Homo sapiens: one gene and its partners. The protein of the gene in region 1 interacts with the protein of each later gene in a biochemical or structural test. Each region holds a gene or a part of one and is shown on either strand. Other genes may lie near its edges. The genes, in order: SNTA1, HTR2C and MAPK12.

The links.
Region 2: the proteins of SNTA1 (region 1) and HTR2C interact in a test that uses a peptide from one of them, tested with the Homo sapiens proteins (2 studies listed by BioGRID and IntAct).
Region 3: of the proteins of SNTA1 (region 1) and MAPK12, one has a biochemical effect on the other in vitro, tested with the Homo sapiens proteins (2 studies listed by BioGRID and IntAct, with this or other methods).

Annotation. Positions count from the first base shown.
Region 1 is NC_000020.11:33,442,146-33,445,892, forward strand, and holds the start of SNTA1 (alpha-1-syntrophin), read right to left. Parts: upstream 1,619-3,747; 5' UTR 1,476-1,618; coding exon 1,166-1,475; intron 1-1,165. UniProt on the Homo sapiens protein: Adapter protein that binds to and probably organizes the subcellular localization of a variety of membrane proteins. May link various receptors to the actin cytoskeleton and the extracellular matrix via the dystrophin glycoprotein complex.
Region 2 is NC_000023.11:114,587,056-114,590,802, forward strand, and holds part of HTR2C (5-hydroxytryptamine receptor 2C isoform a precursor), read left to right. Parts: intron 1-2,534; exon of another isoform or gene 2,535-2,930; intron 2,931-3,747. UniProt on the Homo sapiens protein: G-protein coupled receptor for 5-hydroxytryptamine (serotonin).
Region 3 is NC_000022.11:50,260,204-50,263,950, reverse strand, and holds the start of MAPK12 (mitogen-activated protein kinase 12), read left to right. Parts: upstream 1-2,267; 5' UTR 2,268-2,441; coding exon 2,442-2,566; intron 2,567-2,654; coding exon 2,655-2,784; intron 2,785-3,747. UniProt on the Homo sapiens protein: Serine/threonine kinase which acts as an essential component of the MAP kinase signal transduction pathway.

The DNA of each region.
Region 1 (3,747 bases):
CTTTCACCACTTGTTGCCAGGATGAAGTGGATCATGAGACTAGTGTCCTGGGCACAGCACCTGGCACACAGTGGTGGCATTCACCACCATCCCCACCGCCTCAGCCAAGCCAAACGGTCTGGAGGCACTAGTCAACAGAACCAGTACCAGGGAGACCCCAGAGGGTACGGTATGTATTCAAGGTGGAGACAAAGGCTGATACCCTTTCCCAAAGCACCTGCTGGGGGCTGGGACCCTGAGAAACAGATGGGCAGGAATAGTGAACCCAGCAGCTGGGGGTGTGCAAGGATTTTAACAACTATGTTTAGTTGCTTTGGGAGTATCTGCTGGCCTCCATTTTTCCTCTCCGCTAACAGCAGTAATTAACTAGGCACCTACAGTGTGCTGGTGTGGTGAGCCCTGCTCTCAGAAACATCACAACTCTGTCATCCTCTTATACAGTTGAGGAAACAGATTCAGAGGCGGGACGGGACTTTTGCAACCTCACACAGCTGATCCTGGATTCAAACACAGTCTGGTTGCACCCTAACTGCACCCCACTAGCGGTCAGTCCTGGGGGCTGAAAGCTCTATCCTGTGCAAGGTGGAGATAGTCAGATCAGGAGACCCAAATCCAGCTGTCAGGGCTCCCTGCAGCCTTCCTGGGTCCTTAGATTCCTAGGTCCTTGCTGGCCTTCTGCCTGTGACCCCAGCCTGTGCCTGCACCCAGGCCTCCTATCCACCCCTGTGCTTCCCAGACTCCAGGCTTCCCCTCTGCACCCACCTTGGTTGCTTCTCAGGGACTCCCTCCTCCCTGTCCCACTGGTGTCCCGGCCTCAACCCCCTTTCTCCACACTCTGCTTTCCGGGGGACCCCTCTTGTCCTTGATGTTCATGCTGGTTACCCCTCAGACCCCCCCGCCTCCACACAGAACTCCCACCCACGTGTCCTTGGTGCTCCCACAATCTTATCCACACCTGTGTCTTCCGTGCCCCCTAAGGCCACCAACTACTGAAACCCCCTCCAACCTTGGTGTGCCCAGTGCCCTCCGTTACCTGTTTCCTCAGACCCCCCTTACCCCCAGACAGGAAGCCTCCAGCTCCATGTCCTGGGCGCGCTGCCAGCCCCCTGCGCCCTCGGCTGCCCCCAGACACCACGACCCCGCGCCCTCGGTGTCCCGCGCCCACCTTTGATGCTGATGCCCAGCCCACCGGCGTCGGCCTTGCGCACCGTCACGCGGCGCCGCTGGAGCAGTAGCGCCTCTGGCAGCTGCGGGGGCCCGGCGCCCGGCTCCGCGGCGCCGTTGAGCTGCGCGGGCTCCTGCTCCCGCGGAGCGCCGGGCTCGGGACCAGGGTCGCCGTCGGCGGGGCTCACGGTCAGCACGTCCTCCGCCAGACTCAGCAGCACCCGCTGCCATCGCTCGCCGCCGGCCCCCGAGCCCGCCCCGGCGCGCAGCTCCAGCAGCCCGGTGCGCGGGGCGCGCCTGCCGGACGCCATCTTCGCCTCCGAGCCCCCGGGCCGCCGCGCTCGCCCTGTCCCGCTTTGCCCAGCCCGCTCCGACCAAGCGCCCAGGGCAGAGGGCAGCGGGGGCCCGGCTGGGCCAGCCGCCACCCTACCCCGGCCGCTGGGGGAGGAGCTCTGGGGGCGGGGCTACCCTGGGGTGTGGCCAGTGCTGGGGAGGGGGCCTCGGGCAAATGCAGGAGGCCGGGGCGGGGCCCGGGAGCCGAGGGCCGCCGTGTGGGACTACCTAGCGGGGTGGGTCAGAAGGGCGGCGGGGCGGGCCACTAAGTAAGGCGAAAGCCCGGGAGGCGTGGTGCTGGGCGGGGCGTCAGGGGGCGGGGCTTCGCGTCGGGGGCGGAACCCAGTGAGCCCGCGCAGGGGGCTCGGCGCTCGGAATGCCCATCGAGGGCCGGGACTGTAACTCCCGGACGTGGGAGCGCATGAAAAAGAGACAGAACCACGTATCCTGGTGCGAAGCACTGGGCATCGGGCTGGGCTGCATATGGCGGAGGGCTGGGCTGCGTATGGTAGAGCGTTGGACTCCAAGGCTTGAGTTTAAGAGGTAGACACCGTCTGGGCGTGGAGGCTCACGCCTGTAATCCCAACACTTTGGGAGGCCTAGATGACAGCCCAGAAGCTCGAGGCTGCAGTAAGCCGCGATCGCGCCACTGCACTCCAGCCTGGGTGACAGAGCGAAACCCTGTGTCAAAAAAAAAAAAAAAAAAAAAAGGTAGATGCTGAGCCGCGAGAGACCTTGCGGGCACAGTTGCTAGTTGGGGAGCTGAGGAAGAAGTTGGTTTCCTATCGGGGAGGGCGGGGGATGGGGGGTGGGGGTCGAGGCTTTGGTCTGTGGGCGTGGCTTATCGCTGGCGTGGCTTCTAAAGATGACAGGCCCCGCCCCCTGGAGGAGACCGCTACCGACACCGCTTAGGGCTTGGGGGAGGTGTGGGCAGGATCCCCACTTCAAAACTGGAGGGAAGTTTAAGAGATTAACCCCTGGCTGTGTTCACAGTCGAGTATAGAAAAGCCTGAAGTCCCACACTTTGAGGCCTGGCAGAAAAAAAACAGAACTGGTGTGTGGGAAGAGGGTTGCAAGGTGGGGCTCTGGGTCTGGGCGACTGGAGACATGGTTTCTAATCTTTGCTGCCTCTGTTAGCTCCAAGTCGACTTTGGTCCCCTCACGTCACTGCTCTAGGCCTCAATTTCCTCATCTGTAAAATGTGGATCATAATAATACCTACTTCACTGGGCTGGTGTGAGGATTAAATCAATGTGAAAACACGTGGTAAACTGTGACTCCCTATTCTATAGAAATAATCACTTTCATTTAGTGAATGCTTACTCTTACCTAGGGCTGGCAGAATATTTTCCAAGTGTTATCTTTACATTAGCCTCCTGGAGTAGCTAAGAGCACCCCCAGCTGGGCACAGTGGCTCACACCTGTAATCACAGCTGAGGTGGCAGGATCGCTTGAGCCTTGGAGGTCCAGGCTGCAGTGAGCTGTGATTGCACCATCACACTCCAGCCTTGGTGACAGAGCAAGAAAAAAGAGCACCCCTATTATACAGAAGGGAAAACTTGGATTTAGTCTAATTGGCCTAGGTCACACATTTATGAGTGAGGAAGAGCTGCGATTCAAACCCAGGCCTGTTTGACACCAGTGCCTGGGCACTGAACCACTCTGCTAGACAGCTGACAAATACAGAGGTAAAGCATGATTGTAATCTGAAAAATCCACCACATCACACAGCTCAACTGGCCTTCATACCTGCTCCTTGTCTCTATCCTCCATTCCTAGCTGGGATATGTTGAGCAATAAATAAGTAGGACTACACCAGTGTTTAGCCTCCCTGAACTTTTGGGTAAAATCCTCCACATAAGATACCATCAAGAAAAAAAAGAGGGGGCCAGGTATGGTGGCTCATGCCTGTAATCCCAGCACTTTAGGAGGCCGAGGCAGGTAGATCACGAGGTCAGGAGTTTGAGACTCAGCCTGGCCAACATGGTGAAACCCCATCTCTACTAAAAATATAAAAAAATTAGCCGGGCGTGGTGGCAGACACCTATAATCCCAGCTACTCAGGAGGCTGAGGCAGGAGAATCACTTGAACCCGGGAGGCGGAGATTGCAGCAAGCAGAGATTGCACCACTGCACTCCAGCCTGGGTGATAGGGTGAGACTCCGTCTCAAAAAAAAAAAAAAAAAAAACCAACAACAAAAAAAAGGAATTGTTTTAAGTTAGAGTGGTAGGTGTCAAAACAGGAGAGAC
Region 2 (3,747 bases), on another chromosome or scaffold:
AATAATTTTACTGTTCCATGTATTTCCTTCAAGGAAACGTCATCCCTCTCCAGCTAAGGGAAACACAAAAATTAAAACAAAATTTGGGGGAGAGATTATAGTAACCAACATTAAATATCCTCAGCTATTCTTATTAAATTGTTCAAGGCCTGAGATTGAAGGAGGTTGCAGTTTGCTGAGCCTGCTGAAAGATAAATTAATTCCCAGGTTTTAATGGCTCCTGAAGCTCCAGACTATTTGTCCAGTATTATTAAGGAGCATCTTACCACCTCACTTTCATAGCAATGGAATACCTCACAAAAGGATGATGTACGTGTACTGAGATTATTTTAGTAAAGCATCTGATACAGCTTAGTATTGTCTAGTGGAAGAACTGCTAAATTATGTTCCTCTAGCTGCCTGGTAGCCATGAGCAAACTAGGAAAACTTCATCATAAATTGAAGTTAATAATATATTATTGTGATATTTTATGTCAGTATCATATATAACCCCACCTGATTGTTGTGAAACAGATGGGTATTAAGCACTTTGAAAATTTTAAATTATTGCACTAAGCAACATTTATTATTTATTTGTTAGCATTCTAGGCTACCTATGTCATTTCATCTACATATTGTACTGTTGAACCTCAAAAAGAAATCATCAATCTCCAGTCTAATGTGTGCTCAAGTTATGGATCTCTCCAACACTGCCATTCTTCAAGACATTTTAAGAAGGCTTTTTCATATACTGAGAACATTGCTGCAAGACAGTCTAGTCATCTCCATTCTAGACAAACAACATTGAAAACAACCAAGTGGTTAAGCTGCATCATCATTTGGCAAGTCATTAGCAGATTTAATACTAATGCTCACCTGCAACAACTCTTTGCTAATCACTTCTGACATTTTAATGCACAAACGACATAGTGAAATCAGGATTTCAAATAAGATATACACAAGATGGAATTTTAATTCTGTTTTTGTCTCCTACCTGGCATCTCTACTTCAACCTCGCTATTCATTCCTCTTCTCAGCTGTGGCTAAGACAGTGTCATCTGCAGTTTCCTAAAATAGTTGCGTATTATAGCATTGTACATATAGCTGGCATTTGAAACAGTCATTCTTCTTAATTATGGTTAACCTTATGCATAGATGACCACTTACATGGTCTAATTTGAGAAGCACTCGAAAGGCCTTCTGGTCCCTAAATTAGTAGCCTTCATGGTTTTCCATATAACTTGAAATTCTACATTCAGGAATTTCCCTCTTTCATCTTAGTCACTGTCTCCTTTAAATACAAGTACACCTTTGGGTAACATACTGTTATTATTACCTATTAAGAACTATGCATAAATTTATTGAAAGCTATTAGAAAGCCTTTAGAACTGCATTGTCCAGTGCAACAGCCACCATATATGGGTATTTAAATTCAGAGTTGAATTAGCGTTAATGGCAAGGTGTGGGGTTGAGCTCAATGTAAAAATAAAAAGTGAAAACTGAACACCACTGAAACCAAAGATAATGTCAACTAATATCTAGACAAGGATAGCAATGAATGAATTGGCTAGGATTTCCTTTACTTTTTCATAAAACATGATGTCTTCTTTAAACTAATCAGTAAACGCTTACGAATAAATGTCAGTGTTCAAATCTTTTGCAAGTGTATTTTAAACTTACGTATCTCCCATTTTATCTCAGTAATCAAGACTCACTGAATACTCTTCAATTATAGCTTCCTGTAATCAAAGTAGTAAGACTTGCCCAAATTAGCAAGTAATTATTCTTAAGAGGAGAGGTATAAAAGATGGTAACAGTGGCCACTATTTATTGACATTTACCATGCACTACACAGTTCTAAGAGGTTTACAGGTATATAACCATACAAGCCTGATGACTACCCCATGAGAAGGTACTACTATTATCCAGTTTGCAGTTAGGGAAACTGAGGCATACAAAGAGGTTAATCTGTTCAAACTGAATGAACAAAACCAAGCTTGAAACCAGGCAGTTTTATTCCAGAGGCCGTGGTGTTAAACAACAAACTATTGCCTCTGTTTAGAAATTGGCTAATTTTTCTTTCATACTGTAACAACTAGTCTTTTAACAGAACAAATTTGCATGTAAATGTGAGGATATTAATGGACAATGTCCATTAATCCTCGATATGCTGCTTGGCAAGGCAATGAGACAGACATGCAACATTTCATCTAGAGATTCACCTACCAATAAAGAAGTAGAGCAAATGAGAATGTACTGTTAATGCTGAGAGACTGAGGGACAAGAAGCTGAGTGAAGCTCAGGGGAGTTACAGAGATAATACAAAGACAGAAATGAAGTCAGGGAAATAATGCTATTGTATGTAGAGATGACTGGACAGGCAGATGTTACTACTGTGAGTTGGACCCACAGGTTTCTACTACATGTAACACCACAACAAAGGCCATTCATATTTGTCATTTATATAATATTGCCTACTTGAAATTCAAGCAGTAAAATAGAAGCTCTGAAGGTCTAAGACCGACTGACAGAAGGATCAGTAAAAATCGTTTATCTCTTTCCGTACCGATAGTGCTCCCGAAAACATGGTGAATGTTCCTAAAACTCACAAGACTTAAAGAAGTGTGGCTAGCACCAACCCCACAAAACGACACAGTACAAGAAGGGCAAAGATTCTCTGTATGCCCAGGGAAAGCAGCATTATGACAGGCAGCGCAGTGAATATGGTGGGCAGACTAAGCCAATTTTTCGGAAAAAAGCTAAAACTACAAAGAATATTGTGCTAAGGCTTGAGTGCACTGATCCCAACTGCAAATCTAAGAGAATGCTGCCATTAAAAGATGCAAGCATTTTGAACTGGGAAGAGATAAGAAGAGAAAGGTCCAAGTGATCCATTTCTAAGTGTCATCTTTTGTTTTATTATGAAGACAATAAAATCTTGAGTTTGTGTTAAAAATTATTTATCATATATCAGGAAGGTTTCAAGTCTTGTCTGATCCCATTTGCCATGTATTTCCTTTTCATACTAGAGTCAGGAAAAGTAATTTGATAGCTATGACTTGGAAAATAGGTGCTATAAAAAGTAACTGCCAGTTTTTTAGTTTACTGATCTGAGCCCAGGTAGAAAAACCATATCTGAGTACAATACTTAGACTAAAGTTATTTCAGGGTAGAAAGACCATACTTGGAAAAATTCTAAATATGATTAAAGTCTTTTTAAAAGTAGGTTTTTAAAAATTCAAAAACCAAACCAATTACTTCCATTTCTTACTTCCATTTTAAATTGACAAAAAACCTGATCCGTGATTAAAAAAGAATTTATTGCTAGAAAGATTGGAGAAGTCCAGTACTGTGGTATGTAGCTTTCTCTCCCAAATGTATCTATATTCTGTCTGATCTTCAAGGTCCGTTTCAAGCCCCACCTCTTGCAGGAAGCTTTTGTTGACTAGCCCACATATATGATAAGTGCCTTGCCCATAGTAGGTAATCAGTTAACATATCTTGATTGATTGTATTGTATTCCAATGGTTAAAGTAAAGGTGAAAGAAGATGAAGGAAGAGCTAAAATAGAATTTTTAGCACATCTGCACAATAATATTCAAGAATTCAAGGCATCTAACAGAATAACAGTTTCCCCTGAAATGATTTCAGGTAATTTCTCTGAACATATTTTAGGGCAATAAAAATATTATAAATCTTCTTAAATTAGTTTAGCTAAAGCTTAGCCCTACCACACTGTTTTATTTTCCATTTCACAGTGAAATACAC
Region 3 (3,747 bases), on another chromosome or scaffold:
CCACCGTTGTGGCCCTGCAGCCGGAGATCTGAGGTGCTCTGGTCTGTGGGTCAGTCCTCTTTCCTTGTCCCAGGATGGAGCTGATCCAGTAACCTCGGAGACGGGACCCTGCCCAGAGCTGAGTTGGGGGTGTGGCTCTGCCCTGGAAAGGGGGTGACCTCTTGCCTCGAGGGGCCCAGGGAAGCCTGGGTGTCAAGTGCCTGCACCAGGGGTGCACAATAAAGGGGGTTCTCTCTCACTTGGCTTGTATCCAAAGGCTACTCCAGGCCCGGGTGCCCCCACCATCCCTGCTGCTGGGCGTGGGGGGAGTGTCTGGGTCATCCTGCATCACTCACCTCCAGCTGGCCAGATCCCTCAGGCCCCCAGTCAGACCAGCGGCCATCTTCTGGCACCCTCCCTGCTCCCTGGAGGGTCTGAGAGCCCAGGGGGACCAGGGGAAGACATGGCTGATGGGCAGACTTTGAGGGCACAGGGTGTGACAGCCACCCAGATGGTGACCCCAGCTGCCCTGTGGGGATGTACTGGGCAGGCTTGGCTTTGGGCCAAGATCCAGACACCACCCCCGCCTACCCCTCAGTGTTCAGGGAAGCTGGCTGGGGAGAAGTTGGGTGTCTCAAGGAGCAAGGGTCTGCCCATCCCTGGGTGGGGGCTGGGCAGGGTAGGGAAAATAGCTTTCCTTTCCCTCCTGGTGAAGGAAAAAGAGGCCACTTTAACCCAGGGAATGTGCACGCTGGTCCCGTTCCCACTACGCGCTGCAGCTTATGTGTGGGGGAGGGTCCAGGCCATTTGGGGTCAGGCAGTGTCTCTAAGGACCAGGGACAGTCTGTGCCCTTGCTTGGGTCTTGGGTAGGGGTGGAAACCGTCTGGGAGTTGGGGGCCTCCTGGGGCCTGGTCAGTGTAGTGGTCAATCCCGGGGGAAGTCCAGTGTTGGCGGTTGGGGGTGGGAGGAGAATGGTGACACAGCCCCACCTCAGAAGCCTGGTCCGTGCAGGGCCTGCTGGACCCCTGAGCCCCACCACGGGGAGTAAGGGGGACAGCGTGGAAGCTGGGCTTCCTGGAAGAGGTGGATGGAGTGCCACAGGCAGCCCAGGGCACAAAGGGTATGGGCCACAGGCAGCTGTGGTTTGGGTGGCCCTGGGCTGCCCCGCTCACTGGTCACGAGCTGGTGAATGCCGTGGAGCACGGCCCAAGCCCAGGTGTAAAGCTACTACCACCCTTGAGCGGCTGAGCTGCTGATTCATGGCAGGAGGGCGGGGCAGAAGGCCCTAGGGATCCTGTTACCCACCAGCCCAGTGGGCTCCTGGGGTGCCCCAACATCCCTTCTGAGATCCAGGTTCCTGGGCTGGTGAAGGGGTGTCAGGGTGGGGCTTTGCCCTCAGGAGCATCTGGTCCAGGATGGGGCCAGACCTATGGGAGGACAATGCCCACACAGAGGGGTCAGGCGGAGGGCCCCAGCAGGTCCCCATCCCTGCTGGAGAGAGTGCAGCCACTCTCAGCCTGGGTTTTGCAGGACAGGACAGGCAGGGGTGGGATGGGCAGAGACACCAGTACTTGCAATGCTTGGAGCAGGCACCCCACAGATGGGGGGAGCAGGGGGAGGAGCTGGGGGTCCAAAAGGGCCCACGGGGACCTATGGGACTGAGAGGCCCGGGGTCAGTGGCCACAGGAGTGGGGTTGGGGATGCAGCCTGAGGAGTTTGGGGGACAGACCCCTCCGTGTAGAAAGAGGGATACAGGCAGGACAGGTGCAGATGGACCCCTTGTTGGGGGACGGATGGATCAGGCTCAGTGGTAGGGCATCCTTGGGGGTGGCCTGCGAAGTTGACCCCGGGAACACAGGGCTCAGCCCGACTTGCGGCTGCCATAGAAGTCAGCGCTCAGGCTGTCAAGGATGGGCCCTGCGCCCTGGAGCCGTGGGGAGTTAGGACTGGAGCGGGCGGGGGGGGGGGGGGGGGGCTCCTGCTGAGACCCCCCCAGGGCGGGGAAGTTCAGCCAAAGGGGAGAGGCTGGCAGAGGTATCTCCGCGCCGCGTCCGGCCCTTTATGGGGACGAAGCTGCGGGGCGGCGCTCCCCTCCCCCTGCGCTTCCCCCCAGGCTCCGGCCCTCCCCAGGCTCCGGCCCTCCCCCGGCGGCGGCCGCCTCGGGTTTCCGGAGGGGCCGGAGGGCGGGCGAGGGCGTCACGTGCGCGCCGCCCGCGGGCCGGTTGGTCCCCGGGCGGGGGAGGGGCCGTGCGCAGCCTGGGTCGGGGTCGGGCCGGGGTCGGCACCTGGGACATCCCTGAGGGAAGGGCCGGGAGCGGGAGCGCCCCAGCGGCCGGCGGGCGGGCGGGCGAGCGGACGAGCGGCGCGGAGCCGGCCCGAGGCGCGCGCCGAGGGAGCCCCGTCCCCGGTCGTGGGGGCACCGCCCGCAGGCTCTGCGGGGTGGGCAGCTCCCGGGCCTGCCATGAGCTCTCCGCCGCCCGCCCGCAGTGGCTTTTACCGCCAGGAGGTGACCAAGACGGCCTGGGAGGTGCGCGCCGTGTACCGGGACCTGCAGCCCGTGGGCTCGGGCGCCTACGGCGCGGTGTGGTGAGCGCGGGCCGGGCGGGGCGGCCGGCGGGGCGGGCGGGGCCTGCGCGGGGTGCCCGGCCTTCCCGCTAAGCGGTCCGCCCCGCAGCTCGGCCGTGGACGGCCGCACCGGCGCTAAGGTGGCCATCAAGAAGCTGTATCGGCCTTTCCAGTCCGAGCTGTTCGCCAAGCGCGCCTACCGCGAGCTGCGCCTGCTCAAGCACATGCGCCACGAGAACGTGAGTCGCGCGGCCCCGCTCCGGGAAGGCGCCGCGGCCTCGGCTTGGTTCAGCTGGGCTGGGTTCCCCCACCCGGCAACCCCTCCTCCAGGCAGCCTGCTGTGGGGCCGGGCGGGGGTCGGGCCGTGGGTCCCCAGGGGAGAAGGAGAGCAAGGCCTGTCTCTCCTTGGGAGACGACTCCCCCAAGGGCCGTTCCCCATCCTCCGCCAGCCCCGGGAAGGACTCAGCCCCTTGACTCGGCGCCTCAGCCAGGCCCTGGTCAGGGAACACGACTTGGCCAGGCCCAGGGGATCCTCCAGGTCTCACGCCAAGCCTTGCCCCCAGCCAGGAAGCCCGCGGTGAGAGCATGCTCCCGGCGGGAGGATTTTCCTGGAAGGGGCACCTTCCCTCTTCCCCATCCCCTTTCCAGCCCCTCTGTGGAGCCCACTCTGCTGCTGTCCATCTCCCGAGTCTTCCGACCCGGTGGTGGAGGGGGAGGAGGGGGGCGCCAGAACGCAGGGAGTGTGTTGAACCCTCAGGAGCCCCTGGGGGTGAAGGGTTTAGGGAGCTGCTGTTTGAGGAGCACTGGGCGTGGTGGCCGCCTCACAGACACCCTCCTGTGCGTTGTGGGGGCCCATCCTTTCCAGTCCTTCCAGTGAGATGCCACGTACAGCTGCCCTGGGCCTCTCCCATGGCGGTGGCTGGCTGCTAAGAACCCGATCTCTCTGCCAGGGGTGCTCTGGTTTCTGGATACAGTCCCACTTGTCCACTGCCCCCCACGTCACTCCTGCCCTCCCCCTGGTCTGGGCCCAGCCTGAGGGCTGGTGGTCTGGGCACCCGGACCCTACCTACAGGGTGAGATGCTCTGGACCCTCCTGGGTCATCTGAGCCACCGGTGCCTTGGGAGAACGAGTCCCTGCGTCCACCAGCAAAGTGCCCCGTCCACCAGCAAAGTGCCCCGTCCCCCGGTTCCTGGCCACCGCT